3 linked regions of the Homo sapiens genome follow. The protein of the gene in region 1 binds, or shares a complex with, the protein of each later gene. Each region holds a gene or a part of one and is shown in the gene's direction. Other genes may lie near its edges. The genes, in order: LCK, CD8A and CD4.

Region 1 (10,308 bases):
GGGCAGATCATTTGAGGCCAGGAGCTTGAGACCAGGCTGGCCGACATGGTGAAACCCTGTCTTCGTTAAAAATGCAAAATTAGCCGAGCGTGGTGGCAGGTGCCTGTAATCCTAGCTACTCAGGGGGCTGAGGCAGAATTGCTTGAACCCGGGATGCACAGGTTGTAATGAGCAGAGATCGAGTCATTGCACTCCAGCCTAGGCAACAGAGCGAAACCCCATCTCAAACAAAAATGCCTCCCGGGTTCAAGTGATTCTCCTGCCTCAGCCTCCCAAGTGCTAGGATTAACAGGCGCGCCACCATGCCCAGCTAATTTTTGCATTTTTAGTAGAGATGGAGTTTCACTATATTGGCCAGGATGGTTTCGATCTCCTGACCTCGTGATCCGCCCACCTCGGCCCCCCAAAGTGCTGGGATTACAGGCATGAGCCACCGCACCTGGCCAGCACATAGTAGGTGTTTAAGGGAGGTGGGGCACTCCCTCCCCCTGCAAATGATGCACCAAAGGGAGGGCTGTCCACACCCAAATTATGCCCACTCAGCACCTTGGTGGGCCAGTGAACCACCCATTCCCTCACACTTGTGGTGTGGCTTTGCAAATCAGCCTGTTTCCTGTATACAGTGTGAGGAGTGTGAGAACTCAGGCAGGCTGGACTCTGAGCGGGGCCATGGGATCTACTTTAGAAGAGGGTCTCTCACGCAGCCACACACAGACACACACACACACACACACACACAAGCCAAAACACCATACATATCATGGGAAAATCTACGTGTACAGATGTGTTCAGAGGCAGGGCAGGGGCTACACATAAAACACAGACTACATCCTATAACTCCATGCACACACCCACGAGCTGATGGCTTCAAGGCCAAGCTCAATTCAGTGAAAGTAATTCTCAGTGGGGTGGGGTGGGGTAGGTGGTGAGGAGCAGGTGGGACCAAGGTACCATCCAGTAATGGGGCCTCTCACAATCAACCTCAGTGTTGATTTTAAAGTATCTGGAGCTAGGGGTTTGAGGCTGCAGTGAGCTGTGATCGCTCCACTGCACTCTGGCCTGGGTGACACAGCTAGATTCTGTCTCTAAAAAATAAACACGGCAGAGTGCAGTGGCTCACGCCTGTAATCCCAGCACTTTGGGAGGCCAAAGCAGGTGGATCACCTGAGGTCAGGAGTTCGAAACCAGCCTGGCCATCATGGTGAATCCCCATCTCCACTAAAAATACAAAAAATTAGCCAGGCATGGTGGTGCATGTCTGTAAACCTCCACCTCCCAGGTTCCAGTGATTCTCCTGCCTTAGCCTCCCCAGTAACTGGGATTACAGGCGTGTGCCACCATGTCTGGCTAAGTTTTGTGGGGTTTTTTTGGTTTGTTTGTTTTTTGTTTTTTTGAGACAGAGTTTTACTCTTGTTGCCCAGGATGGAGTGCAGTGGTGCGAGCTTGGCTCACTGCAACCTCCGTCTCCCTGGTTCAAGTGATTCTGCTGCCTCAGCCTCCCGAGTAGCTGGGATTACAGGCATGGACCACCACGCCCGGCTAATTTTGTGTTTTTAGTAGAGATGGGGTTTCTCCATGTTGGTCAGGCTGATCTTGAACTCCCGATCTCAGGTGATCCGCCTGCCTCAGCCTCCCAAAGTGCTGGGATTACAGGCATGAGCCACCTCGCCCGGCTGTTTTTGTTTCTAATTACAAAATTAGCACATTGCTGTTTTAAAAACACTCAAACAGGCCAGGCACAGTGGCTCGCACCTGTAATCCTAGCACTTTGGGGGGCCGTGATGGGAGGATCACATGGGCCCAGGAGTTTGAGACCTGCCTGGGCAACATAGGCAGACCCCATCTCTATTTAATTATTTAAAAAAAAAATAAAATTTAAAACTCAAACAGTAAGAGGCATATAAAGAAATACAAGAAATGCAGCCTCCTCCAATCCCACTTCTGGGATATGCCCATCGTGAAAAATTTGGTGTGTGTCCTTCCAGATTTTCCCATGTATGGCTGCTGAAAAACATGGAGGTTAAGTCTAGTCTCTGCAGGCTGGCAGACCGGGACTCACTTCACAACTCCACTGCTCATTTGTTTGTTATGAGGCCTCAGACAAATCATTTTACCTGGTTTGGGCCTCAGTCTTTGCATCTGTAAAATGGGGATAATAATAGCACTTCATAGGATTATTATGAGAATTACATGAAATAATGCAAATAAAGGCTTAGCACAGAGCTTATTTAAAAGAATCCCCTGTATACATATGTCAATGCAAATAGGCATATACTCTGCATTCTGTTCTGCAACTTGCTTGCCATGGTGTATGCGGGATGTCTTTCCGTGTCAATACATGTCAATACAAAATACCTCATCCTTTTAACTGTTTCACTAAACGTTAGCTTGGTAAATGGTTAACGGTGGTGATTTTGAAATGTTACTTCCTGGCAAGTGTTGCTGTCATGTGCGGCCATGTTGTCGGCAGTCACAGATATTATTGATCAGTGAGCTAACTACAAGCCTTATAGCCTCCTGTGAAAATGAAGTGACCCACCAGAGGGGCACCCACCTCTGTCACAGAGGGCAGGGCCAAATGCATGGGACGCTCTCTGTCTGCTTACTTCTGCATCCTCAGCTCTAGGTCAGAATCTGGCACATAGGAGGTACCCATTAAATTTATTTTTTTTTTTTTTTTTTTTGAGACAGTGTCTCAGTCTGTTGCCCCGGCTGGGGCACATGGTGTGATCATAGCTCACTGTAACTTCACACACCTGGGCTTGAGTGGTTCTCCCACCTCAGCTTCCTGAGTAGCCTAGGACTACAGATGTGTACCACCATGCCCAGCTAATTATAAAAAAATTCTTGGCCAGGCACAGTGGCTCATGCCTATAATCCCAATACTTTGGGAGGCTGAGGCAGGAAGATCTCTTGAGACTAGGCATTCAAGACTAGCCTGGGCAACATAGCAACACCCCGTCTCTATTAAAACATAATAATAACAATACAATTTATTTATTTATTTATTTAGTTATTTATAGATGGAGTCTTGCTCTGTCACCCAGGCTGGAGTGCAGTGGCACTATCTCAGCTCACTGCAACCTCTGTCTCCGGGTTCAAGCAATTCTCCTGCCTCAGCTTCCCAAGTAGCTGGGACTATAGGCACATGCCACCAAGCCCGGCTAACTTTTGTATTTTTAGTAGAAATGGGGTTTCTACTAAACTCCCAACACTTTGGGAGGGTGAGGTGGGTGCATCATCTGAGGTCAGGAGTTTGAAACCAGCCTGGCCAACATGGTGAAACCCTGTCTCTACTAAAAATACAACAAATTAGCCAGGCGTGGTGGCAGGCGCCTGTAATCCCAGTTACTTGGGAGGCTGAGACAGGAGAATTGCTTGAACTCGGGAAGTGGAGGTTGCAGTGAACCGAGATCGTGCCATTGCACTCCAGCCTGGGCAACAAGAGCAAAACTCTGTCTTAAAAAAAAAAAGTGTGTGGAGATAAGATCTCACTATTTTGCCCAAGCTGCACTCACACTATGTATGGTCTCAAGCAATCGTCCTACCTCACCCATTACATTTTTGTCAATAGGCCAGCTCCTTTAATCCACAAGCAGCAGCCTAAGCCCAAAGTTCTCTCTTGCAGTGTGGCATTTCCTAAAATATGACCTGTACACCACTCAGGTGTGTAAGTGATTTTAGGGGATAATGGATGACCATTTACGAATGTTAATTTATGTGTTTATTTTAGTGTGCGCTGTTGTTTCACTTCTATTTATGTCTCATGATTCTGGTTTTCCATTTATGGTAGTAAAGTTTCCATTTTAGGTACATATATCAAACGTGAAAAGGTAGCCCGTGGAAGTGCCAAAAATCATGAAGGAAAATGAAAATGATCAATCATTTTAGCCTGAAAGATGTTTAAGGCCAGTGTCTATGTAGCAAGCACTATGTTAAGCATTTTATTATATGAGATCATCTATATATCACGTATAATGCTCACCACAGCCAGCCTTAGATGCAAGTCTTATTTTTGTCATCATTTTGCTGATGAAGGAACTGAGGGAAGTGCAGAGGTTTAGTAAGCTGCCCAACAACCTTCTGCCAGTAAGTCTTGTTTTTTTTTTTTTTGTTTTTTTTGTTTTTTTGAGACAAGGTCTTGCTCTGTCGCCTAGGCTGGAGCGTAGTGGCCCAATCTTGGCTAACTGTAGCCTTGACCTCCCCAATCTCAGGTGATCCTCTCACCTCAGCCTCCCAAGTAGCTGGGACCACAAGCATGGGACACAAAGTCCGGCTAATTTTTGTATTTTTTTTGTACCGACGGGGTTTTGCCATGTTGCCCAGGCTGGTCTCAAACTCCTGGGCTCACGTATCTGTCTGCCCACCTTAGCCTCCCAAAGTGCTGGGATTATAGGTGTGAACCACCACGCCTGGTGCCCTTCTGCCAGCAAGTGATTGGGAGAACCTGGATTGAATTTGGGTTGCCATGGCATGGACATGGTGAACTGAGCTTCCAGAGCTGCCAGACTCCCAGAAACGTTTATAAAGCAGTGTGGATTGCCAAGCTGTAAGTAAGGCTCCATCCTAATAAAACTGTCCATGATACAAAAAGCACACCAAAGTACCCAAGGGAGCGGACTCAGTAAAAGGGATTATCAGGTATATTCACGTTACTGGTTGGGGGACTTCTACTAAAATACCAATTAGAATAATTGCTCTATATCCCTTATTTATAGCGATACTTGACTAGCAGAATCAGTTCTATGTTCAAGACACTCCCAATTTGTGAAAATAAATCCATTTTGTTTGCATCCAAAATAATGCTTTTTTTTTTGTTCTCTCTGTGTCGAGAGGCTACAGAGTTCATTCAAAAAAGGTATTAAGCCAGGTGTGGTGGCTTGCACCTATAATCACAGCATTTTGGGAGGCCAAAGCAAGGGGACTGCTTGAGCCCAGGAGCTCAAGACCAGCCTGGGGAACATAGGCAGACCCCGTCTCTACAAAAAATAAAAAAATTAACTGGGCTTGGTGGTGTGTACCTGTGGTCCCAGCTACTCAGGAGGCTGAGGTGGGAGGATCACTTGAGCCCAGGTGGTTGAGGCTGCAGTGAGCCATGATCATGCCACCGCACTCCAGCCTGGGCAACAGAGTGAGATCCCATCTCTAAAGGAAAAAAAAAAAAAAGAGAGAGAGCGGAATTAAAGCCAGGTGCAGTGGCTCCTGCCTGTAATCCCAGCTATTCGGGAGGCTGAGGTGGGAGGATTACTTGAGGCCAGAAGTTTCAGGTTGCAGTGAGCTACAATCATGTGCTGTACTACTCCAGCCTGGGTGACAGAGTGAGATGTGAGACTCCATCTCTTTAAAAAAAAAAAAAAAAACCAGGCTGGGCGCAGTGGCTCACACCTGTAATCCCAGCACTTTGGGAGGCGGAGGCAGGTGGATCACAACATCAGAAGTTCGAGACCAGCCTGACCAACATAGTGAAACTAAAATTAGTTTCTACTAAAAAACACGTCTCTACTAAAAATACAAAAAATTAGCTAGGCATGGTGGCGGGTGCCTGTAATCCCAGCTACTCGGGAGGCTGAGGCAGGAGAATCGCTTGAACCTGGGAGGTGGAGGTTGCAGTGAGCTGAGATCACGTCACTGCACTCCAGCCTGGGCAACAGTGCGAGACTCCGTCTCAAAAAAAAAAAAAAAAAAAACCCAGCCTGTGTGACGTGGTGAGACCCTGTCCCTACTAAAAATACAAAAATTATCCAGGCGTGGTGTTGCCCACCCATAGTGCCAGCTACTCAGGAGGCTGAGGTAGGAGGATCACCTGAGCTATGGGAGGTCGAGGCTGCAGTGAGCCATGATTGTGTCACTGCACTCCAGTCTGGGCCACAGAGTGAGATACCATCTCAAAAAAAAAAAAAGTATTATGTATTTAAACAAATATGAAAAAGGAGGTAGCCCAGGACACATCCCTGATTTACCCACTAGAAATTAATTACTGACGGGGCACGGTAGCCCATGCCTGTAATCCCAGCACTTTAAGGGGCTGAGGCAGTGGATTGCTTAAGCTCAGGAGTTTGAGACTAGCCTGAGCAACATGGCAAAACCCTGTCTCTACAAAAATTAAAAAAATACAAAAATTACCCGGGCCCTCTCATTCACAGCTTCTCAGGTAAAAAAAAAAAAAGAAAAAGAAAAAGAAAAAAAAAATAGCTGGAGGCTGGGTGCGGTGGCTCATGCCACACCTGTAATCCCACACTTTGGGAGGCCAATGCAGGCAGATCACTTGAGGCCAAGAGTTCTAGACTACCCTGGCCAACATGGTGAAACCCCATCTCTACTAAAAATACAAACATTAGCCAGGTGTGGTGGCACACGCCTGTAGTCCCAGCTCCTCGGGAGGCTGAGGTAGGATAATTGCTTGAACCTGGGAGGCAGAGGTTGCAGTGAGCCGAGATTGCACCACTGCACTCCAGCCTGGGCGATAGAGTGAGACTTCATCTAAAAAAATAAAAATAATAATAATAATAATAATGATAATAATAATAGCCAGGCGTGGTGGCACATGCCTGTTGTCCCAGTTACTCAGGAGGCTGAGGTGGGAGGATTGCTTGAGCCCGGGAGGTCGAGGCTTCAGTGAGCTGTGATTTTGCCACTGCACTCCAGTGGCACAAGAGAGCAAGAGAGCAAGAGGGCAAGACCCTGTCTCAAAATAAAATAAAATAAAGAAAGAAATTATTTGCCATGCCTGCTAGCCCTGATTCTTGATATTGCTTGATATTGTCATGAGGGTTCTATGTGGGCATGAATAGCTAAGGCTCTTTATTGAACATGGGCAGCTTTGTCATTAATCAAGTCTGGGTCGGGGCAAAGGCGAAGAAAATGTTTTAAATGATTCATTTTTTTTTAATTTTATTTTTATTTTTATTTTATTTTATTTTATTTTTGAGACAGAGTCTTGCTCTGTCGCCACGCTGGAGTGCAGTCCCGGGTTTAAGCAATTCTCCTGCCTCAGCCTTCCGAGTAGCTGGGACTACAGGTGTGCACCACCACGTTCAGCTAATTTTTTGTATTTTTAGTAGAGATGAGGTTTCGCCATGTTGGCCAGAATGGTCTCGATCTCTTGACCTCATGATCCACCCACCTCAGCCTCCCAAAGTGTTGGGGTTACAGGTGTGAACCACTGCGCCTGGCCTTTTATTTTTATTTTTACAGAGACAAAGTCTCACTATGTTGCCCAGGCTGGTCTTGAACTTCTGAGCTCAAGTGATTTTCCCATCTCGGCCCTAGGATTACAGGCGTGAGCCTCCAGCCCTGGCTATTCTAAATGATTTCTGACAGATTTTGCCATGAGGTGGTCCAGAGTACAACAATGGTCTGCAGTAGAATAGTCTGCTTGTTCTTTTTTCTTTTTTACTTTTTGTGCTCTACATGTTCAGAGAAACTGAACTAAAGAAATGATCCCTAAAGGAAGTATAGTCTTGTCTGCTGTTTTTTGTGTTGCTTTGTTTGTTTTGTTTTGTTTGAGAGAGGTTCTTGCTCTTTCCCCCAGGCTAGAGTACAGTGGTATGATATTGGCTCACTGCAACCTCAACCTCCTGGGCTCAGCGATCCTCCTACCTTAACCTCCTGAGTAGCTAGGACTACAGGCGTGCACCACCACACCTGGTTAATTTTTGTATTTTTTGTAGAGATGAGTTCTCACCATGTTGCCCAGGTTGGTCTTGAACTCCTGGCCTCGAGTGATCCTTCCACTTTGGCCTTCCAAAATGTTGAGATTACTGGCGTGAGCCATTGCATCCGACCACCTGCCTGTTCTTGATGTAAAGCATTGGCCCAAGAAACTCAGCCACGAAGCTGGCACACATTTTGGACAAAATGTTCAATAAATCAATAGGTCTATAGTTGGAGGAGAAAAAATGTTAACTTAAAAATTTTTTTTAATTTAATTTAATTAATTTTTTCTTTTTTTGAGACAGGGTCCCCTGTCGCCCAGACTGGTGTGCAGTGGTATAATCACGGCTCACTGCAGCCTTGACTTCCTGGGCTCAGTGATCCTCCCACTTCAGCCTCCTGGGTAGCTAGGACTACAGGCAAATGCCATCACGCCATCATGCTTGGCTAATTTTTTTTTTTTTTTTTTTTTTTTTGAGACAGAGTCTCACTCCATGGACCAGGCTGGAGTGCAGTGGCGTGATGTCCACTCACTGCAACCTCCGCTTCCCCAGTTCAAGAGATTCTCCTGCTGGCCGGGCATGGTGGTGGCTCAAGCCTGTAATCCCAGCACTTTGGGAGGCCGAGGTGGGCGGATCACGAAGTCAGGAGTTCAAGACCAGCCTAGCCAACATAGTGAAACCCCGTCTCTACTAAAAATACAAAAATTAGCTGGGCCTGGTGGAACGTGACTGTAATCCCAGCTACTTGGGAGGCTGAGGCAGGATAATCACTTGAACCTGGGAGTTGGAGGTTGCAGTGAGCCGAGATCGTGCCACTGCTCCCTAGCCTGGGCGACACAGTGAGACTCTGTCCTCTGTCTCAAAAAAAAAAAAAAAAAAAGGGCCAGGTGTGGTGGCTTACACCTGTAATCTCAGCACTTTGGAGGCCGAGGTGGGCAGATCATGAGGTCAGGAGTTTAAGACCAGCCTGACCAACATGGTGAAACCCCGTCTCTACTAAAAATACAAAAATTAGCCGGGCATACTAGGCGCATGCCTCCAATCCCAGCTACTCCGGAGGCTGAGGCAGGAGAATCGCTTGAACCTGGGAGGCAGAGGTTGCAGTGAACCGAGATCACACCATTGCACTCCAGCCTGGGCAACAGAACTAGACTCTGTCAGAAAAAAAAAAAAAAAAAAAAAAAGAGATTCTCCTGCCTCAGCCTCCCAAGTAGCTCAAGTAGCTGGGACTACAGTCACGTGCCACCACACCCAGATAATCTTTGTATTTTTAGTAGAGATGGGGTTTCACCATGTTGGCCAGGCTGGTCTCAAAATCCAGACCTCAAGTGATTCACCTGCCTCGGCCTCCCAAAGTGCTGGGGTTACAGGTGTGAGCCACGGCCCCCGGTAGCCGGACGCCGGCCACTAATTATATAGCTGAGCATGGTCGGGTGCCGTGGCTCACACCTGTAATCCCAGCACTTTGGGAAGCCGAGGCAGGTGAATCACTTGAGGACTGGATTTTGAGACCAGCCTGGCCAACATGGTGAAACCCCATCTCTGCTAAAAATACAAAAATCAGCTGGGTGTGGTGGTGCGTGCCTATAATCCCAGCTACTTGGGAGGCTGTGGCAGGAGAATCTCTTTTTCTTTTCTTTTTTTTTTTTTTGATGGAGTCTAGTTCTGTCACCCAGGCTTGAGTGCAATGGCGCGATCTCGGCTCACTGCAACCTCTGTCTCCTGGGTTCAAGCGATTCTCCTGCCTCAGCCTCCTGAGTAGCTGGGATTACAAGCATGCGCCTAGTACACCTGGCTAATTTTTGTATTTTTAGTAGAGACGGGGTTTCACCATGTTGGTCAGGCTGCTCTCGAACTCCTGGGCTCAAGGAGTCCTACTGCCTCAGCCTCCCAAAGTGCTGGGATTACAGGCGTGAGTCACCATGCCCAGACTCCTTCTGGTCTTAGTTTGATAAAGATTGCTGAGTAGCCAACATGATCTAACCAGGTTAATAAATGAGGTCAGTAAAAAGAAAATCAAAATTAAAGCTTAATATAAATTTCTCATTGTCTGAAAGAAAGAAGTGGAGGAAGGGAGAAAAAAAAAAAAAAAAAAACAGATGAAAGGAATCCCCAGGGCTCCCAGAACCAGCAATGAGGGCAGATTCTGGGGTGAATGAAACAGGACATTCTTTTCTCCCAATTTAGGAATCCAAGGTCACGAGTAAGAATTTCATAGATTCGAGGCTGCCTCTGACTAGGGCATGTAATGTTCTCAGTCAAACTTAAGGCTGCCCGTGGTCCACAGAACATTTTGTGATGATTATAAAAAGGCCACAGGCCAGGTCTGGTGACTCATGCCTGTCATCCCAGCACTTTGGGAAGCGGAGGTGGGCAGGCCACTTGAGGTTGGGAGTTCGAGACCAACCTGGCCAACATGGTGAAACCCTGTCTCTACTAAAAATAATAAAAATTAGCGGGCATGGTGGTGCATGCCTGTAATCTCAGCTACTTGGGAGGCTCAAACAGGAGAAATTGCTTGAACCCAGGATGTGGAGGTTGCAGTCAGCTGCGATTGTGCCACTGCACTCCAGCCTGGGGGACAGAGGAAGACTCCGTCTCAAAATAAATAAAATAAATAAATAAATAAATAAATAAATAAATAAATAAATAA
Region 2 (10,687 bases), on another chromosome or scaffold:
CAGTGAGATGAGATCGCACCACTGCACTGCAGCCTGGGCAACAGAGCTAGACTCTGCCTCAAAAAAAAAAAAGAAAAAGGAAAAGATACATTATGCAAACGGGAAGCATAAGAAAGTTGTGTTTCTGGCCGGGCACAGTGGCTCATGCCTGTAATCCCAGCACTTTGGGAGGCTGAGGCAGGTGGATCACCTGAGGTTGGGAGTTCGAGACCAGCCTGACCAACATGGAGAAACCCTGTCTCTACTAAAAATACAAAATTAGCCGGACGTGGTGGTGCATGCCTGTAATCCCAGCTACTCGGGAGGCTGAGGCAGGAGAATAGCTTGAACCTGGGAGGTGGAGGTTGCGGTGAGCCAACATCGTGCCATTGCACTCCAACCTGAGCAACAAGAGGGAAACTCCATCTCAAAAAAAAAAAAAAGAAAGAAAGCTCTGTTCCTTATGAATAAAAGGTAGACTTCACAACAAAGTATTACCAGAGGCAGAGGTAAAGACGAACATTTCATAATGATAAAAGAGTGAATTCATCCAGAAGGCACAATTCTAAATGTGTATGCACCTAATAACAAAGCTTCAAAATATAGGAGACAAAATATGAACTGAATTAAAAGGAGAAATAGACAAATCCACACTCATTGGACATTCGGCATCCTTCTCTCTCAGCTCCATAGGAAAGGTTAACAGATTAAAAATTAAAAAACTTACCATCTTTCTGTCATAATTAATGAACAAAACTCCAAATTTAGCTTTTCATGAGAAGGCGGGTGGGGTGGTACTTGGGAGGGTACAGTTTTATCTGTAATGTTCATGTGAAGGAAATGCGACAAAATGCTAACACTTATAAAGAGTGGGCATTTTATATTATTTGACATATTGTTCTATGTTAAAATGTTTTCAAAACTTTTTTTTAAAAAAGTGAATAGCAGAAATATTTAAATGAGTGAATAATGAATGAAGTTCAGAAGTCAACATCACTTCATCTGACATTGCCCTCCACAAGTCCCCATGCTGCCCCTACCCTCCCTTGTTGGCCTTTCTCCTGTGAGTCCTCCTCATCTTATCATCCACCAATGGCAAACATGTGGGACATCCTCATGTGGGTCAGGGGCAGACATGAGCTTACAATCTCTACCTGCCACAGGCTTTGATGTCCTCTCTGTGCTTCTCTTATAGCCCAAACCTCCCCTGTGAAGTTCTTCCACCTTCTCAAGCCCCATTCTGAATTTCCTGCACTACCTGGATTCCTTGCCAATGTTTTATTTCCTGCTCTTCAATACGAGCCTTCCCTGAAGGTTCCATATACTCTTCTGTATGTTCTTTCCACACCACCTCCCTTTGCAATGACACCCACTCTCACAACTTATCACCTCCTTCCCAAGGCTACATCCCCAGCCCTGACCCCTCTTCTGAACTCAAATCCTGGCTCTCCAGTTGCATTCAGAACGCTTCTGTTTCAGTGTTACTGAGATTAAAGATCCAAAACAATTTTGTTACCGAAACACCGGGGGATCCATCTAGGTCCTTCTGCTCACCTCACAGAAAGCCAATCACTGAGACAACAAGTATTGCCAAGGAAGAAGAATTTAGTCAGGTGCTGCAGCCAAGGAGATAGGAGATCAGTCTCAAATCCATCCCTCTGACCTGACTAAAATTAAGGGGTTTATATAGCAGGGAAGACATGTAATCATGTGTGGGAAAACAGGAAGTTGGGAGGAGTAAGGAAAAGGAGTTGGACAACAGGAAACAGGAGGTTAGTTAGGCCATCATACCAGGTGAAGAGTCTGACGTCTTATTGTTCATAATAAGTGATCTGGTGAGTTTCAGCTCATTGCTACCATCTGGGAGGCCTGATAGTTGGTTTCCCTAGAAAGGAACTCAGATAAGACAAATGTAACTTTCTCAGGTTTTAAGAAGGCAAGGATCAATTTATATGTTTATTCAAAGAAACCACAAACATCAACTCTATGGGATCATTGGATCAGTTTTACAGTAAGCATGTGTCAGCACCAAGGGAGGGGATGACAGAGAGTCAATGCAAGGTGTAACCAAAATGTGTATATTTTTCCCCATTACAGTTCAGCTTCTTACCCTCTCTGCCCAATCCAAACTGCAACAAGGATTCTCCCAATTATATTTCAAACATCCTAGCTTCCTGGGATGCCCTCTTCTCTTTACTCTTGATGTTTATAATTCACCTTGATATGTGCAAAGATGTATATGTTTTTATACTTGGCACTAAGAGTATTTTTGATCTGAGAATGTTTGTCTTTAATTGTGAAAAATTTTCAGCCATGCTTTCTTCCCATATTTCTTCTCCACATTCCCTTTGTTCTCCCCTTTCTGAAATCCTATTAAACACTTCACCATGCTAATATACATCTCAACAGCTTTTTCAAACTGCTTCTGTCTTCATCTCCCTGTGTTGCATTCTCTATGAATTTCTCAATGCTAGCTTCCAATTCATTAATTATCCCTTCAACTATGTCCAACCTAGAGTATATCCTTGTTTAATATGTAGAGTGTTCATTTCCAGTATGCTCAGTATTTATCATCTTCAACTGTTCTTCTTTAATTTCTGCATTTTCTACATTTGTTGTTCTCTTTGTTTTAAACATTTTTCAAATTGTTCAATAATTTGCCTCTTTTTGGAAGTGAATTCACATTCCACTTGTTGAGTCTTTTTTATGTATACTTTGAATTTCGAGTGTGTGTGCAGGGTTATCTTGAATAGAAATTTTTGAAAATCTCTTCCTCTCTTTACTCTCTCTTTTCCTGAGTTTTTTAAAGTAGCCTCTGACTTTCCAGGGCCCACAGTCAGAACTAGGCCTTACATGGGTGGCTGTGGGCTCTCTTTCAATCAAGAGAAAATCAGATCCAAATCCCTGTTTCAAGCAGAGAGCCTGGCTCCAGCCTTCCTCTATAGGCAAAGCACTGTGAAACTCTGTTAGCTGAAGGAGTCAAACTCTTGGTGCCTCTACACTAAGAACAGACCCTCAAGACCCAGGCCCAAGAATGGTTTGCTAAGAACAGATCCCAGCAAGCCAGCCCCTGATTCCAGCCATTGTCCTGCAACTACATCCTTGAAGACGTTTATCTTGCTTTTGAGTACATCTGCCTTCTCCCCTTCCTCCTCTTCTTTTGTTTTTAACTATACCATTGCTATATGTTAAAGCATGGTATCAGCTGATCTTGATCAGACATATCAAATGCCTCATTCTAAACAACCTCTCTCCTAATTCTTCCTTTATCTTCAAACCCAACTATATGTGAAGCCTTTCCTGACCACTCTTACTTGGAATGAACTATCTAAGCCTCCTCTGGTCTGCTGTACCCTACTTCTACCTTCCTTTAGCTTTTACTGAGCAAGAATTTCTTGAGTGTGTGCCACTCAAGTGTGTGCCAAGCCCTCTGTTTGGCACCCTGGTGTAAACATGAGAGGGACAAGGCTCCTTCCTCAAGGGACCAAGGGTTTGGTTGTCAAGCTGGACAGGCAAACAAACCATTGTGCTCCAGTCTGCAGATACCCAAGGTCCGGGTGACACAGAGAAGAGAAGGATGTGGTCTGTACTGTCTGGGAGTGGGAGGGGGAAGGAGCTAAACCCCACAGGAAGGAGATGCTTGAGCTGGGTCTTAAGGGAGAGGAGTTTGGTAAGCAGAGAGCAGAGGTGAGAACATTCTTGGCTGAGGGAATAGCATGTTTAATGGCTCTGAAGTGGAAAGGACTAGGGTCCGCTTGAGAAATGAGAGATGCGGAACCTAGGAGGAGTGAAGAAGGTGACAGACAAGAGGACAGAGACTATGAAACCAAGTGTGCAGGGCCTCACAGGCAACATTAGGGATCCCCGACATTCTACTAGGGACACCAGGAAGTCCTTTCAGGTTGAAGCAGGGGGTTGGCATGATGAGATTTTCTCTAGAAGGGACCAGAGCAGAAATGGGGTTGGCCAGTTAAGAGGCCATTGCAAAAGTCCAGGAAAGAAGGACAGCAGCTAGATGAACTTGGGGAACTCGGGGTGGAGGAAAAGAAAGGTGACAGAAGTGAGGCCAAATTGATTGGTATTTCCAATTAAGATAAAACAAGCCCTGATAACTCTAGAGTTTCTAGCCCTGGACAAGCTAACTCCTTCCAAGAACAGTAACATCTCCATAGACCTGAATTGGCGATGGGGACACAGCAGGCAATTTCCCAGCCATGATTCCAAGTTGTCCCTGCAGTTCATGTCTTAGGAGCAGTGGCACAGAACCCTGATGGATTTCCTACCACTGCTCTGCCCGGTTTTGCATTTTGAATATGTCTTTAATCTACATTAAAGTTTTCCATTTCCATGGACCAGTTTAAATCAGCATAGAAACTGGTTACTATCTTACTCTATCTACTTCTGGATATTTTTTTAAATAAGGGGCTTGCTTAAAGGAGTGCAGTCATTCACATTTCTTCATGCCATCCCAAGTCAGTGCTACAGTGTGGGGTTTGGGAACTTACCTGGCAGTGATGGACAGGCCCAACCCAGCCCTCTGCACACCTGGTCTACAGAAAGTTTCTCCAGAACTTGTGCAATTGCATCTGTTCTGCCACTGCAAGGCGGATGTCATTGTGGTCACATCGAAAATCCACCACGTTCTGCAAAAAATATCACTGGGGTCACAAAGCCTCCTTGATGGGTTTGACATGTTGCCTTATCCTCCCCACCCCAACCCCCATGGTGCTCTGTACAAAGGGGCTGCCACCCCACTGGCTGACACTTTTCTGAGCTGCAGGGCTAGAAGGCCCCCAAGCTGATTTCCGTGAGACTAAGATGGAACTAGTCTATTTTAAAGCAGTACACCCCCAAATCTGGCCATCATCACACTCAGGGGCCTGATTCTCAAGATCCAAATAGGTGGAGGTTGACTCTGGCCCCCTCAGTGCTTCCACCACTGGGCAAGTGCAGTTTCGTGTCTAGCCATCTTCCTTACCACCCTGTTGATTGTAGCCTTTGGCCAGCAGGGCCATTTGACACTCCTGATACAGTGCTGGTGGTGCTGAGCAAAATGGCAAACTACCATCTACAGCAAGAATTGATGTGTTGGTGGCCTGTCTGGACTTGATTGCTTCCTTGTCTCCCTCATTCATGTGAGTTGAGGGACAGCACTGTGTCTACACAGCGAGGGACCCTCATACCATGCACACACACACACACATGCATACATCGATAGGCCAGTTATAACCATCATTGTAAAGGTGTTTTCTTCCCCAACTCCCTCATCTCCCATTTGAAAAAGCTGCAGGTACTGGTGCAAGCCCTCAGTGATACAGATACATTATATCTACCACAGCCTTGCTAGTGTTGCAATAATGAGAAATCGCCTAAATGTCCACTAACAGCAGAATTAAATTATGGAACACCCATATATAATGCACCCATTTATAAGAATGGGGTGGATCTTCATCTGCTGAACGCTCTCCTTCTACTGTGAAACAAGATAGGTTGCAAAAAAATATTTATCTCATACAATCCCATGTGTCTAAGATGATGTATAAACATCTGTTTATGTACAGATAATATCTAAGGGACACATTCAACTGTAACAGTGGTTTTCTGTGGGGAGCAGGTGACAGTGAGGAGAGTTGAGACAGGGAACTTTGTGTTTGTTTTCGTACAAGAATATATTGCACTGTTGTCACTTAAAAGACATTTTTAAAAATTTCTGAATATAAAATGTTACATGTTCCATGCTAGAATAAGCATCTTGGATGCTTTGAGGGAGCTGGAAGGAGGTACTGAAATCAAAATAATTAAAAAAAAAAAAAAAAGCCCATCCAGGCCCTGATATGGTGGCTCACACCTGTAATCTCAACACTTTGGAGGCCAAGGCGGGGCAAAGCGCCTGACCTCGGGCATTGGAGACCAGCCTGGGCAACATGGTGAAACCCCATCTCTACCAAAAATACAAAAAATTAGCTGGGCATGGTGGTGTGCTCCTGTGGTCCCAGCTACTTGGGAGGCTGAGGTGGAAGGATCACTTGAGCCTGGGAGGTAGAGGCTGCAGTGAGCCGAGGTGGTGCCACACTGCACTCCAGCCTGGGCAACACAGCCAGACCCCATCTCAAAAAAAAAAATAGCAACAACGACAAAGAACCCATCCAACACTTAAGTTTGTACTTCACAAGGACAAGGAGAATGCAGTTCAACAAGCACAGCTCAGCCCATGCTGTGTTTCTGGGGATGGAGGACACATCATGAAGTCTCGGCATGGTCCTCGCCCAGCAGAACTAATGGGTGGGGCAGACACATGGAACACAGAATGCCAGGTGTCTTGTCTCTAGGATCAAGCAGTAGCAATGTGAGGTGCAGCCACTATGGGATTCAAAGTGGAAAGACTCAGAAACCCTGAAGAAATGGGAAGAGGGCATGCCACTGGAGCTGGAAGGTTTCAGGACAGCAACAGTCAAAAAGGAAAGATGAGCCTGTAGTCCCAGCTACTCAGGGGGCTGGGGTGGGAGGATCACTGGAGCTCAGGAGTCCCAAGGCCAGCCTGAGCAAAACAGCGAGACTCCAGTCTTTTTTATTTTATTTTATTTTTTAAAGAAACAAAAAGGAAGGGGACACACATGTGTTAGGGACAGAAAAGAGAAAACCGCCTCTACCCAAGCATTCACCCACATCACCCACACCTCCCTGCAGAGCACCCAGAGCTGGGGGTGAAAGAAATGAGGTCCAAATGAGACAGCACAGGAGCTGCCTCCAGGGCTTAAACAGACCAGCATTCCAGGCCGAGGGACCGCAAGTGCAAGGGCGTGAAAGCACAGAGCGCAGGGGTTGAATGACTTCAAGCCTGTGAAGCTGCAGCTGCAGGTGTATGGGAAAGGCAGGGCAGGGGGCTGTGCGGAGGCTGGGAGGAGCCAGCACCCAAGGGCTGGTCAACCAAGCTGGGGGTTGAATTTCCATCCAGCAATGCAGGCCATGGGAGGCTGCAGCAGTGACGCTGTCAGATCCCCTTTGTGAGAATAATAATTTTTATAACAACGTGGCTGGAGGACTGATCAGGAGAGAGACTGGTGTGAATTGAAGGCTGTTGCAATGGCTCCAAGAAGAGATGAGGCTGTGTGGTGAGTTTAGCCGCTGGATGAAAGGCCGGAAGAATGAGGTCAGCAGCGCACTGACACCGACACCCAAAGCTTCGGCTGCTGCCGCTCTCATGGAAATCTCCTGGGGGAAGGGAGAGGGTCCTTCCTCGGTGAAAACTGGGGCTGCTCTAGCGAGTTCCTCAGAAGCGGGCAGGTCGCTAGTTCCTCTTCCTTTTCAGCCCTCAGTGCCCATTTTGCCAATAAAAAGTCCCAAGGTGACAGTACAAGAGACGCCTTTAGTGAAGGCAAAGGAAGGGACACTCCCCTCCTTTGCTGCCTACTCTCGCCCTCACTTCTTGAAATCTTTGGTCTCCCTTCACCCACTCTGTCACTCTCACAAGACAACCATTTCCAAGGACTATTTCCAAGCCCTTTTCCTCATCCCCAAACCCGCAGTTTTCAGCTGCCCCCAGTTGCCTGGCCAGGCTGCCTCGACGGCCCTATTCACGGGCCCCAGCCTCCTCGCCGGGCTGGAAGGCGACAACCGCGAAAAGGAGGGTGACTCTCCTCGGCGGGGGCTTCGGGTGACATCACATCCTCCAAATGCGAAATCAGGCTCCGGGCCGGCCGAAGGGCGCAACTTTCCCCCCTCGGCGCCCCACCGGCTCCCGCGCGCCTCCCCTCGCGCCCGAGCTTCGAGCCAAGCAGCGTCCTGGGGAGCGCGTCATGGCCTTACCAGTGACCGCCTTGCTCCTGCCGCTGGCCTTGCTGCTCCGTGAGTTTGAGACGCCCGGGAAGGCAGGGGATGGGGCGGGCGGGGGGCGGGGGGCGCGGGACTGCGGGCTCAGCCTCGCTGCTTGCCGCCTGCAGACGCCGCCAGGCCGAGCCAGTTCCGGGTGTCGCCGCTGGATCGGACCTGGAACCTGGGCGAGACAGTGGAGCTGAAGTGCCAGGTGCTGCTGTCCAACCCGACGTCGGGCTGCTCGTGGCTCTTCCAGCCGCGCGGCGCCGCCGCCAGTCCCACCTTCCTCCTATACCTCTCCCAAAACAAGCCCAAGGCGGCCGAGGGGCTGGACACCCAGCGGTTCTCGGGCAAGAGGTTGGGGGACACCTTCGTCCTCACCCTGAGCGACTTCCGCCGAGAGAACGAGGGCTACTATTTCTGCTCGGCCCTGAGCAACTCCATCATGTACTTCAGCCACTTCGTGCCGGTCTTCCTGCCAGGTCCGCGCGCCGGGTTGCGGCACCTCTCCGCGTGGGGCTTGGGGTTCACCTCAACCTGTTTTCCACACCTGGGCCCTGCTTTCAAGCCTCTTAGCGCACCTGGAAGCGACTTAGATACTGTTCCCATTTCACAGACACAGCAAACTGAGGCTAACGCGAGGCTGAGTAGGGACTGGGGATGGCTTTTTACGTCCGGCCGATCTGGACTCGAGTTCGGATTCTTGTGTGATTCTGGGCAAATGACTTAAATTATCTGCGCCTCCGTTTGCTCGTGGGTAAAATGCGGACAGCAATCAACCCGCGCTCCAGGGTTGCTGGTTCAGCCCGGGAGAGAGGCCAGGTGCAGGGGAGCTGGCTCCTGCGCTCCGGCTCTGGGCGCCGGGTGCGCTGGGCTGAGCCGAGGCCCGAGCACAGGGGTCCGCGCGCATCCCGGGGTCCCCATCCTGTCTCCTCTGCTATCCCTTCTCCCAGGAAAACCGGGGGGAGGCGTCCCCGTGGGGAAAGGTGCGCGAGGCCGGGGCTGGGGCGCCTCCATAACCCCAGCCTGGCCCCCAACCACGCTCTGTTGCTCTTGCAGCGAAGCCCACCACGACGCCAGCGCCGCGACCACCAACACCGGCGCCCACCATCGCGTCGCAGCCCCTGTCCCTGCGCCCAGAGGCGTGCCGGCCAGCGGCGGGGGGCGCAGGTGAGGCGTGCGGGGGCCCGGGGCGGGGGCGGCACGCACCGCGGGGAGAGCCCATGCCAGGGACAGCCCTGATACTGTAGGTAGAGTCAAGGGCTGTCCAAGTGGTGGGAAACCGAGATCTGAGGCGGAGAGACGTTCCCGGGACGGTGGGGCGGTTGGGAGGTCCCGGGCCCTCTCCTAAATGTCGGCGTCTTTGGTGTCGTCAGTGCACACGAGGGGGCTGGACTTCGCCTGTGATATCTACATCTGGGCGCCCTTGGCCGGGACTTGTGGGGTCCTTCTCCTGTCACTGGTTATCACCCTTTACTGCAACCACAGTAAGTCCCGAGGAATCGCGGCGGGAAGGAGTCGGCCCCGCTCCTGCCCTTGGCTCTGCTAGCTCCAGGCGGACCTTGCGAGGGGGGAGCTTGGGGTTGAGTTTTCTGGGACTCCCGAGCTGCCCCGCAGGTACAGGCACTTCTTTCTGGGAGATAGAATGCGAGAAAGCCCTTCCCGCTCCTTGCGCTCTCGGAGAGGTTTTGGGAGACAAAGCCGCGTTCCCAGAGCCGCTGCAGCGGGTGTGTTCCGTCGACGAAGCCCGCAGCGCGCGCGCACATGTCTGGACACATGACAAACGCCCGCCGGGAGGGGGCCGCTGTGGCCGAGTCAAGTGCCCAGGAGGGTTAGTCAAAACCACCATCAGTTTGAGGTTCGTCCTTGGCCCTCTTCGGCGAACCGCCCACCCTGCTTTGGGTCCCATGCAAGAGAGGTGCCGGATCAGGTCTGCAGGCTCCCCGCTTTCGCCCGCGTCTGTAGTTGCAATTTTTTTTAATTGATGCTTGAGACGAAGGATGGATAAGAAGCCCTTACCCGGCTCTCAAGAGTTATAATCCTCAAAGAAATAGGGGAAAGGAAGGAGAATTCGTAGAGGCAATTCCCTATTTGCCTCATCCAATTTCAGCCCATGATCGTTCTGAAATGATTTTTTGTAAAACCAAAAAACAGCAGCAACAACAACAGCAACAACAAAAAATACACTGTCTTTGGGGACTATTGATGGATAGGGGCACTCACTTTTTCCCTTCTTTTTCCTTATCCAGGGAACCGAAGACGTGTTTGCAAATGTCCCCGGTGAGTCTCTTTTGAACTCAGCCTGCTCACCTTGGCCAGCCCTGGGGTGGGGTCCTGGTTTCCCCAGCAGCAAATAGTGGGAACTTTTCCCAGAGAGAGGTCATGGCCGTGAAATCCTGGGGCAGGGAGTCAGCCAGTTCCTGAGCAAAGAGAGGCCAAGGCTGGCATCTGGCCTGTGTCTTTGAGAAAAAGGAGGCCCGGGTTAGGCGGGTGCCAACAGCAGTGTGACTCCAGTAAATCTCCATCTTATTTGACCTGGCACTTCCAAAAAAAAAAAAAAAAAACCTGAGGGATTCCCCCAATTTATCCTAGCTCCTCGTAGGACCTGACCTCCTCTTTATTCTGATTATTCCATCTGGGTTTTGTTGTTTTCTTAAGAAAACAATTTTTTTTCCTACTTGGCTGGTCTAGTTTTTTGAGGGAGAGCCAATCTTTTATCAGCTGAACCAAAATAATAATGGCTTTGGTTGCTAACTTCTCTGTGTCATGTAGGACCTTGGTTTGCTGCCAAGGACTGGAGTAGAAAAAAGGGGAACGAGATGCAGGGACAATTGGCTATCTGGCAGCTCAAGTGACTGCCTCATCCAGTTTCAGCCCATGATCACACACACACACA
Region 3 (10,806 bases), on another chromosome or scaffold:
AGCAACACCTACCAAAAAGGTCTGGCATGTACAAATGAATGTGAAAGTGCTTGGAAAATGGAAAACCACTCTAGAGATGTGAGGACCATGGCACTGCTGAGCCTCAGAAGCTCCAGGTGAGGCAGTGGGCCTCATACCTCCCTCCACTGCTAAGGGAGAAGACTTCTCTTAGCTGTCATCCTGGCCTTTCTTCTTCTTTTTTTATTTTTTATTTTTTTTTTAGAGGTGGGTTCTCGTTATGTTGCCCAGGCTGGTGCGCAGTGGCTATTTACAGGCCCGATCCCACTGCTGATTAGCATGGGTAGCATGGAAATTGTGACCCATTGTGTGTCCGGCCTGGGCTGGCTCACCCCTCCTCAGGCAATCTGGTGGTTCCCCACTCCCGGGAGGTCACCACGCTGAAGCTGAACTCAGTGCAGACACCTGATCTGCATAGTGCACTACAGCCCAGAACTCCTGGGCTCAAGGCATCCTCTTGCTTCAGCCTCCTGAGTAGCTGAGACTACAGGCACTCGGCACCACGCCCCGCCTGGACCTTCTTTTTTTGGTTTGTTTGTTTTTGTTTTTGTTTTTGTATTTTTAGTAGAGATGGGGTTTCACCGTGTTAGCCGGGATGGTCTGGATCTCCTGACATCACAATCCGCCCGCCTCGGCCTCCCAAAGTGCTGGGATTACAGGCACGAGCCACCATGCCTGGTCCTGGACCTTCTTAATGCAGAGGAGAGGCAGTGCAATGAGGGGGACCACCCAGAAACTGGGGTCCAAGCGGGTGAATTCAAATCCCGGTTCCACCAGCTGTGGTTACTAGCTCTGAGACCTTTGACAACTGAAACTCTTCGGCTAGGCACAGTGTGACTCATGCCTGTAATCCCAGCACTTTGGGAGGCTGAGGTGGGTGGATTGCTTGAACCTAGGAGTTTGAGATCAGCCTGGGAAGCATAGCAAAACCCCATCTCTAGGGGAAAAAAAAATTTAGCTGGGTACAGTGGCACATGCCTGTAGTTCCAGCTACTTGAGAGGCTAAGGCGGGAGGATAGATTGAGCCCTGGAGGTTGAGGCTGCAGTGAGCTGTGACCGTGCCACTGCACTGCAGCCTGGGTGACAGAACGAGACCTTGTCTAAGAAAACAAAAAACTCTTCAAGCCTCAGTTTCCTCATCTGTATGGCCTGGACAATAATACCTATGTCTTATCACTCTCATGAGGATTAAATAAAAGATACAACCACATAAAGCACACAACAATGCCAAATGTTTACTATAAACTCACCCTCTCTCTTCCTTTTTTCTTTTCCTGTTTGGAAACCCCAGAGAGAGAGCCAGGTTCTCAGGACCGTTGACTTCCAGGCCACAGACTCACAGAGCTGCAAGTTCTCACACCGTCCATCGGGTCTGGAATCTGCAAACCGGTGGGCCCAAAGCTAGAGCCAGCCCTTGGAATGCTCTGTTTGCTCTACCCAGTGTCACGACAAGTTGAAAAAATTTGTTACCAATATTAAAATCAGGAGGTATTACATAAATGTCTGGTTTTCACCTTCTCTAGAAATTTTGGCAGAGCAGGCAACTCTAGGCTCACATGCCAGTATAGCCTCTACGGTCAACTCAGACAGCTATGCAGGGAATGGCTGCCCTTAACTAGCTGAGGCAAGTACTCTCTGGTTTCCCCCAGTCCCTACCCTTCCCTTTTGGTCACCACCAGTGTACCTTTCTCATTTGCACTACCTAGGGGGCTCCTGTAAGCATTTACATTTGTAGCCCTGCTCTCCTGCTCTTGTCCATACTTCTCTATTTATCCATTCAAAAATTATTTGGCCTGGTGCAGTGGCTCACGCCTATAATCCCAGCACTTTGGGAGGCAGAGGCAGGAGAATCACTTGAGGTCAGGAGTTCGAGACCAGCCTGGCCAACATGGTGAAACCCTGTCTGTACTAAAAATACAAAAATTAGCCAGGCTTGGTGGCGCACGCCTGTAATCCCAGATACTCGGGAGTCTGAGGCAGGAGATTCGCTTGAACCTGGGAGGCGGAGGTTGCAGTGAGCCGAGATCACACCACTGCACTCGAGCCTCGGCGACAGAGCAAGACTCTGTTTCCAAAAAAAAAAGAAAAGAAAAAAGAAAAAAAAATATTATTCAATAGCCAGGAGTTGCAGGGAGTTAGAATGAGGAGTCAGTATTTAATGGGTACAGAGTTTCATTTGGGGAAGATGAAAAATTTCTAGATGGTTACACAACCATGTGAGTGTACTCAGTCCCACAGAGCAGTACATTAAAAAATGCCTAAAATGGCCGGGTGTGGTGACTCACACCTGTAATCCCAACACTTTGGGAGGCCAAGGTGAGCAGATCACTTGAGGTCAGGAATTCGAGACCAGCCTGGCCAACATGGTGAAACCCCGTCTTTACTAAAAATACAAAAATTAGCCAGGCGTGGTGGCGGGCACCTGTAGTCCCAGCTACTCGGGAGGCTGAGGCTGGAGAATCGCTTGAACCCAGGAGGTGGAGGTTGCAGTGAACCTAGATTGTGCCACTGCACTCCAGCCTGGGGGACAGAGTAAGACTCCGTCTTGGAAAAAAAAAAAAAAAAAGCTTAAAATGGAAAATCTTATGTTGCGTGTATTTTACCGCAATAAATTTAATATCAATAAAATTTAATATATTAGGAAAATATTAAACAAGCATTAAGGGTCTTCCAGGGCCAAGGCATCTGTGAGGGTGCTGGGAACATAGTGCTAACTAAGACAGACACGGTCACCGCTCTGGCCTGTGAGCTAGACACTAAGCAGCAAATAACTTCATTGCAACTGGAAAATTGCTACGAAGGGAGAAGCACAGGGGACTGGGAGATCTTATCACAAGGAAAACTGATTTCAACTGAGGAACCTGAGTATCCTCTGAGACTCTGGGGAGGAAGTCCTGTGCAGGAGAATGGTAGAGCAACAAAATATAAACAGCCCCAATCTTGGCCCTGGAGGACGGCGTGCTGCTCCCTCTCTTCTGCACCACCCACCTCCACACTTCCTACATGTGAAAAATAACTTCAATCTTGTTGAAGCCTCTATTATTTTGGGTTTTCTTTTGCTTGTAGCAGAACCCAGTGCTTACCGATAGACAATTCTCCCAGTTGAAAGAAGGTTCTTTTGTGATAAGATCTCCCAGCACCTTGTGCTTTTTCCTTTGTAGCGCTTGTCGAATTGTAATGAAGTTGTTCGTTGTTTAGTGTCTATGTCATAAGCTGGAGTGGTGACCATATCTGTCTTCTTCAACATCACATCCCCAGCTACCTAGCAGAGTGCCTTGGGCTGGTACACGCTTAACTACGTACATGAATGAATGGAGCAGGGCTCAAAACATCAATGCCTACCAGAGCCTGCCAGGTAATGTAAATGAGAAAAGCAGACTGGCTGTGAACAATAGGGAGGGTGTTTGCTTTCTAGTCTGAAGGAAGAAGGCCTGAGGAGGATACATTTTCCCCACTTTGAGGAGCAACTCTGAGGTTGCACCTAATACTTTCACTTCTATCTATTAACCAAAATTGAGTCACTTGGACACATCCAGCTGTGAGGGAGGCTGGGAAGTATATTTTAAATCTGGGTAGCTAAGAGCTCAGCTAAAAATTGAGGGTTCTATTACCAAGAAGGAGAAAATAGACTTTGGGGACAGCTAAAGCGATAGCTGAGATCTGAAGAATGAATAAAAATTACCTAGATCAGTGGTTCTCAGAGTGAAGTGTGGCCTGCAGACCCTTGGGAGTCCCTGAGACCCTTTCAGGGGATCTTCAAGGTCAAGCTATTTTCATAAAAAAATACAGGATGTTATTTTCCTTTGTCACTATGTTGACATTGCAATAATGTTGCAAAAACAATCTGGATAAAACTGCTGCCTTAGCATAAATGAAGGCAGTGGTGCCAAACCATATGATAGTCATTGCATTCTTCACTGCCAGGTACTTACAGTAAAAAAAGAAAAAAAATTAATGCCACTTTTACTTAAGAATGCCCTTAATGAGGCCGGGCGCAGTGGCTCGTGCCTGTAATCCCAGCACTTTGGGAGGCCGAAGCGGGCAGATCAGGATCACCTGAGGTCAGGAGTTCAAGACCAGCCTGGCCAACGAGTGAAACCCTGTCTCTACAAAAATACAAAAATTAGCCAGGCATGTTGGCGGGTGCCTGTAATCCCAGCTACTCGGGAGGCTGAGGCAGGAGAATGGCTTGAATCCAGGAGGCGGAGGTTGTAGTAAGCCGAAATCATGCTGCTGCACTTCAGCCTGGATGACAAAGCAAGACTCTGTCTCAAAAAAAAAAAAAAAAAAAAGAGAGATCAAGACCATCCTGGGCAACATGGTGAAACCCCATCTCTACTAAAGATACAAAAATTAGCTGGGCATTGTGGCGCATGCCTGTAGCCCCAGCTACTTGGGAGGCTGAGGCAGGAGAATTGCTTGAACCCGGGAGGCAGAGGTTGCAGTGAGCCAAGATCACGCCACTGCACTCTAGCCTGGGCAACAGAGTGAGACTCCCTCTCAAAAAAAAAAAAAAAAAAAAATATATATATATATATATATAGAATGCCTTTAATGAAGCAGTAAATACTAATTTTATTAAATCTCAACCCTTGAGTACGGTGTGTCATGAAATGAGAAGTAGCACACAGTACTATATGCTACAGATGAAGTACAATGCTGTCAAATAGGGGTACTTGTGTTAATTGTTGGAGTCGCAAGCTGAACTAGAGTTTTCTTTTCTTTTCTTTTCTTTTCTTCTTTTCAAGACAGGTTCTCACTCTGTCACTCAGGCTAGAGTGCAGTGGTGCAATCACGGTTCACTGCAGCCTCAACTTCCTGGGCTCAAGCGATCCCCCCACCTCGGCCTCCTAAAATGCTGGGATTATAGGCATGAGCCACCACTCCCAGCCCCACTTTTTTCAGACTGGAAAACGCACACTCACATGTGCATCTTTAAATGATCACTTGGGCTGTGGTATGGAGAATGGCGACCAGTGAGGAGGCAGGAGCTGTTGTCCGAGCAAGGGATGATATTGGCATCTTGGATTGGCATGGTGGCAGTAGTGGTAGTGCAGAGTGACTTGGGTAGATTTTGGAGCCATTTAGAAGGTAACATCCACAGGAACTGGTAAATAAATACGTGGGAGAAGTTGGGTGAAGGGGGTGTCAAAGATTACACCCAATTTATTTTGCTTGGGCAAGTTGGTGGATGGTGAGCCCCTCACTGAGTGAGAAGCCTGGAGAAGCAGGTTTGGAGGGTGGTAGTATGCAGGTGGTATGCATAGTTGGGGATGTGTGTTGAGTTTGCTATGTCCGGTGAGCTTCCCAGTGGAGATGTCCAATGGGCAGACGGATACTCACATAGAGAGTTCATGGTAGATTCGGGCTAGAGGAAAGCACCTGAGGCCTGGCCAGAGACGCCTAGAGGAACAGAGCCTGGTTAACAGTCACTCCTGGTGTCTCAGATATTCTCTGCTCAGCCCACGCCCTCTCTTCCACACTGGGCCACCTATAAAGCCTCCACAGATACCCCTGGGGCACCCACTGGACACATGCCCTCAGGGCCCCAGAGCAAGGAGCTGTTTGTGGGCTTACCACTGCTGTTCCCATATGCCCCCAACTGCCTCCCACTTCTTTCCCCACAGCCTGGTCAGACATGGCGCTACCACTAATGGAATCTTTCTTGCCATCTTTTTCTTGCCGCTTAACAGTGGCAGTGACAGTTTGACTCCTGATTTAAGCCTGATTCTGCTTAACTTTTTCCCTTGACTTTGGCATTTTCACTTTGACATGTTCCCTGAGAGCCTGGGGGGTGGGGAACCCAGCTCCAGCTGGTGACGTTTGGGGCCGGCCCAGGCCTAGGGTGTGGAGGAGCCTTGCCATCGGGCTTCCTGTCTCTCTTCATTTAAGCACGACTCTGCAGAAGGAACAAAGCACCCTCCCCACTGGGCTCCTGGTTGCAGAGCTCCAAGTCCTCACACAGATACGCCTGTTTGAGAAGCAGCGGGCAAGAAAGACGCAAGCCCAGAGGTAAGGTGGTCAGACTCGGCTTCCTTCCCCGGAGCTGAGAGGGAGGGGAACGTGGGGCAGATGCACAGGAATGTGCTCTGCCCAGTTGTCTGCCCACAGCTCTGGCCACCTTCTCTTGCATTTCTCTTGGAACTGGTCATGAGCAGCGATTTCCCACTGGAACTGTGAGCTTCCAGAGGTCAGAGACTGTGCTAGACTCCTCTCTGCAGCCCCAGCGTGCACAGCTCAGTGTCCAGAGCAATGGGTGCTCCTTAGAGGAGTAGTGACCTAAATAGCAAGATCAGAGAGGGAGTGAAGACTGGAGACTATCCCAGGCTGGGAAAGGCGTGGAAGGCAACTAGTCGTGGGCAGTTGAGGGGAGAAGACTGGAAGAGGGGAAAAGAGGAGAAAAAGAGTGAAGAAGGGGAGGGAAAAAATTAGAAAGAATAAATAAATATAAGGTGGGAGGAAACCTATAAAAAAGAAATGATGAGGAAAAACATAAAAACAAGAAAAAGAGCAAAAGAAGTGGAATCTAGTCTAGAGAAAATTCTTGCAAAACCAATTTTCCTTAACGGGACAATCTCCAAAAATTGACACCAAATATCATACTTGCAGCATTTCATAAGTCGCATGATCTATGTAATAGTCTCTTTTAACTACCTTTTGTGTTTCTGTGTGTATTTTTAAATTTTTGTCTGCTTCTTTGCTCTTTTAAGATTTTTGAACAATGTCTAAAGGCACTTCTACTCTAGTTAGCTTTAAAATGATTCATGAAATAGGAAAGCTAAAATTCTCAGAAAGTGTTGAAACTGAGCTTTTGCGTATGAATTGCCCTAAAAGTTGCAGATACATATCTTTAGATAAATATGTCATTTAAGAAACGGATTCGAAAAGAATTGGTGGTAGGGGTCTCATGAGGCCGGGAGAGTTACAGAAGGATGTGCAGCCCCTCCTGGGCCTGGCAGGGTGTGAGGGAGAGTGAGGACTCACTGTCCCTCCTGAAGGGAAGCCCTGTGCCATCTCAGCCTTTCCGCCCTCAGACCTTTCCAGCCCCTGAGACCTCATGGCCTTGAAGCCGTGCTATCCCCAGTGTCCTCTGCTTTCCCCTCATAGGCTTCTTCTGGGAGAGAGGTTTCCTGGGGTACGTTCTGATCCCTCAAAACGGAAAGGCCCTGTTCTCAATAATTCAAAGATTTCACTCTGAGTGGGATAGTGCTTCCTGAATGCCCTGCTCTTGTGGTGGACATTTTTATCGGGGCAAGGCTAAGAGCAGGGCCTGATGGGGGAAGTCACTGCTACTTCACATTTTGACCAATAATTCCTTGTGCTGTATCAGATGCTGTAGGCTGATACAAAATGGCCGCCGCCCTCAAAGTCAGATGAAAGAGCCCCTGAGGACAGCGTTAGAGACACTCGGGAGATGATTTCCCTCTTTCAATGTGGGAGCACTTACATAGGAGAGGTCTATATCTAGATAAAAACTCCTCCCACCACTGGTGCTAGACAGAGCTTGGGGGCAGCCCTAGGCTCTGACCCTGGCCGTAATGGCGGGGTGGTGCTGAGGGCAATTGGCTAGACCAATTGTCTTGCACGTTTTATTTTTTATTATTATTTTTGAGACGGAGTCTCGCTCTCTTGCCCAGGCTGGAGTGCAATGACGTGATCTCCACTCACTGCAGCCTCCACCTCCTGGGTTCAAGCGATTCTCCTGCCTCAGCCTCTTGAGTAGCTGGGATTACAGGAGCCCAACACCACGCCCGGCTACTTTTTGTATTTTTAGTAGAGACCAGGTTTCACTATGTTGGACAGGCTGGCCTCAAACTCCTGGCCTCAAATGATCCGCCCGCCTTGGCCTCCCAAAGTGCTGGCATTACAGACGTGAGCCACCATACTGGGCCAGTCTTGCACATTTTAGACACTCAATAAATGTTTGTTGAATGAAATACCTGTGATGGGCCGGGCGTGGTGGCCCACACCAGTAATCCCAGCCCTTTGAGAGGCCGAGGCAGGAGGATGGCTTGAACCTGGGAGTTTGAGACCAGCCTGGGCAACATGGTGAAACCCCCATCTCTACAAACCCCACAAAAGTTAGCTGGGCATGGTAGTGTGTGCCTGTGGTTCCAGCTACTTGGGAAGCTGAGGTGGGAGGATTGCTTGAGCCTGGGAGACGGAGGCTGCAGTGAGGCCTGACTGTGCCACTGCACTCCAGCCTGGGCGAGAGTGAGGCCCTGTCTCAAAATAACTTTGATGAAGGTGGGGAATCAGAAGTAGGTGGGCAGGGGTCTGGGTTTGCAAGGCTCTGAGTTTGAGCTCTGTTCTGTACCTTTGAGGGGATGAGGGAAGGAGGGTGGGCACGGTTCCCCCGATGTGGGTGTCTGAGGCGAAGAAGAGGATGGCGGAGGTTGCAGCCACCAACCACAAGAGTTCCTTAGAGGGGTCACAGTCTCTAGGAAGTTTATAGGAAGCTAGTCAGCAGTAGAGAGGGTGAACGCGGTGGGGCACATCCCGCGGCTGGGCTTGAGTGGGCTGCTTGGGGGTTATGGGGAGAAGATAAAAGTGCCTGTGGGACCACAGACTCTCGCTGTGGTGGAGCTGGGCCCTCTTACCCTCCCAAGCCTCGCCCCTCATCCCATCCCTGGGGGCCAGGGGTGAGGGCGGCAGGAACCTCAAGGCTCTGAGAAAGTGCGTGGTGTGTGTTGCCATTTTGGTCTCTTCTCTTTCTCAGTCTCTCTTTGCCTCACTTTGGATCTATGCTCTGTGCATCTGTCTTGCTTCTCAGAATTTCTTCTTTTCCTCTTTTTTTGTACTACCCTGCGCTTTGTGTGTGATTGTGGATTGTGTGTGCATAGCTGTTGCTTTAACAAGCTGCTCCAGGTCTCTCTCTCCCACATCTTTCCCTCCCCTCCTCCCTTGAGGCTCTGTGCATTCTGGGGAACTCTGTCCATTTCCCTTTGTCCATGTGTCCCTCCCACCCTGCAGCCGGCTCCCTCACATCCACCCTGGGCTGCAGGCGTGCTCGGCAGGCTCCCCACAGATCAAAGCTTGTCCAGGGTCTGCATTGCTGCCAAAGGCCAGGAGGACTGTGTACAGACCGGAAGGAGCTAGAGCTTAGTGGCAGCCTGAGAGGGGAAGCTGAAAAAGGAGAAGAGGCAAGGGGCATTCCAGGGGAGCCCGGGAGAGCCAGCACGGCCGCCTGGTATATGAGGCAAAGAGGAAGACAGACACAGACACAGGGAGCTGCAGGCTGGGGGCATAAGCTGGGGGCTGGGAAGCATAGATACAGAAATGCACAGATGTGAGCTGAGAAGCAAGGAGGGAGAGAGAGAGACAGAAAGAGAGAGAGAGACGTGCCAGGGCTTGAGGGACCAGAGAGCCCTCCCAGCCTCTCTCGGAGTGCTGGTATACAGGATGCTACCGTACTAGGGTAAGACACCTCTGGGGACGCTGAGTATGGGAATCAAAGGCCAGATCTCTGGGGTGGCAGCGGAAGCCCAAAGCACCAAAGCAAGCATGCTGGAAACCCACAGCCTCCTCCACTTAGCAGAGCCTTGGGGTGAGATGAGGCAGAACAGGGAGCTGGAGGCAGGGAGGTGGCTGTCTGCACATACCTCAGGACCATGGAGCTGGGGGAGTCAAAACAGCCACCATATGGGGAAGGGTCAAGAATGCCTCTAGTCTTCCCCAGGCATCTTATCAGGGTAAGCTGAATTTGGACCCCAGAGAAGGGATATCGTTTATGGAGACTTCCCCTCTTTCATCCCCTGCTCACCAAGGACCCAGTCAGTCTGGGATGGGGGACAGTGGGAACCACTCTTTGGTATGAGGCTACTCCTATTCTACTCTTCTCACTGCAGCCTTCCCCTAGATGCCTCCCATCTGCATGCTAACCTGTAAACACTTCACCATCACTGGTGGCTAGTCTCCCTTCCTCCTTTTTCAGAAACCTCCTTCCTGACCTCTTTTCTTCCTACTTCCCCGGTTTAAACAAAATTGTATCTATCTATCATCTATCTATCTATCTATCTATCTATCTATCTATCTATCTATCTATCTATCTATCTTTTTTTTTTTTGAGACAAAATCTCACTCTGTCGCCCAGGCTGTAGTGCAGTGGCACTACAAGTAATCCCAAGTAGCTGAGATTACAGGCGCCCGCCACCATCCCCAGCTAATTTTTTTGTATTTTTAGTAGACACGGGGGTTTCATGATGTTGGCCAGGCTGGTCTCAAACTCCTGGCCTCAAGTGATCTGCCTGCCTCGGCCTCCCAAGGTGCTGGATTATAGGTATGAGCCACCACACACGACACCCGGCTTCTATCTATCTATATCTATCTATCTATCTATCTATCTATCTATCTATCACCTATCTATCTAATCTATCTATATCTGTCTATCTATCTTTATGTATCTATCTTATCTATTGATCTATCTATCTTTTTTTTTTTTTGAGACAGAGTCACTCTGTCACCCAGGCTGGAGTGCAGTGGCACGATCTCGGCTCACTGCAACCTCCGCCTCCCGGGTTCAAGCGATTCTCCTACCTCAGCCTCCTCAGTAGCTGGGACTACCCACCACCACTCCTGGCTAATTTTTGTATTTTCAGTAGAGATAGGGTTTCACTATGTTGGCCAGGCTGGTCTCCAACTCCTGACCTAAAGTGATCCACCCACCTTGGTTTCCCAAAGTGCTGGGATTACAGGCGTGAGCCACCGTGCCTGGACATATATCTATCTTTTTTTTTTTTGAGATGGAGTCTCGCTCTGTTGCCCAGGCTGGAGTGCAGTGGCGTGATT

The links.
Region 2: the proteins of LCK (region 1) and CD8A are in contact, whole or in part, in an NMR structure (PDB 1Q69), measured with the Homo sapiens proteins. Residues at the interface, in NP_001036236.1 of Homo sapiens: Cys20, Asn22, Cys23, Tyr25, Pro26, Ile27, Val28; in NP_001139345.1 of Homo sapiens: Arg212, Arg213, Val214, Cys215, Lys216, Cys217.
Region 3: the proteins of LCK (region 1) and CD4 are in contact, whole or in part, in an NMR structure (PDB 1Q68), measured with the Homo sapiens proteins. Residues at the interface, in NP_001036236.1 of Homo sapiens: Glu15, Ile17, Val19, Cys20, Asn22, Cys23, Tyr25, Pro26, Ile27, Val28; in NP_000607.1 of Homo sapiens: Ala429, Arg431, Ile435, Leu438, Leu439, Lys443, Thr444, Cys445, Gln446, Cys447.

Annotation. Positions count from the first base shown.
Region 1 is NC_000001.11:32,253,137-32,263,444, forward strand, and holds part of LCK (tyrosine-protein kinase Lck), read left to right. Parts: intron 1-10,308. UniProt on the Homo sapiens protein: Non-receptor tyrosine-protein kinase that plays an essential role in the selection and maturation of developing T-cells in the thymus and in the function of mature T-cells. Plays a key role in T-cell antigen receptor (TCR)-linked signal transduction pathways.
Region 2 is NC_000002.12:86,787,914-86,798,600, reverse strand, and holds the start of CD8A (T-cell surface glycoprotein CD8 alpha chain isoform 1 precursor), read left to right. Parts: upstream 1-7,687; 5' UTR 7,688-7,775; coding exon 7,776-7,824; intron 7,825-7,919; coding exon 7,920-8,273; intron 8,274-8,850; coding exon 8,851-8,961; intron 8,962-9,167; coding exon 9,168-9,278; intron 9,279-10,040; coding exon 10,041-10,071; intron 10,072-10,687. UniProt on the Homo sapiens protein: Integral membrane glycoprotein that plays an essential role in the immune response and serves multiple functions in responses against both external and internal offenses. In T-cells, functions primarily as a coreceptor for MHC class I molecule:peptide complex.
Region 3 is NC_000012.12:6,783,633-6,794,438, forward strand, and holds the start of CD4 (T-cell surface glycoprotein CD4 isoform 1 precursor), read left to right. Parts: upstream 1-5,895; 5' UTR 5,896-6,030; intron 6,031-10,806. UniProt on the Homo sapiens protein: Integral membrane glycoprotein that plays an essential role in the immune response and serves multiple functions in responses against both external and internal offenses.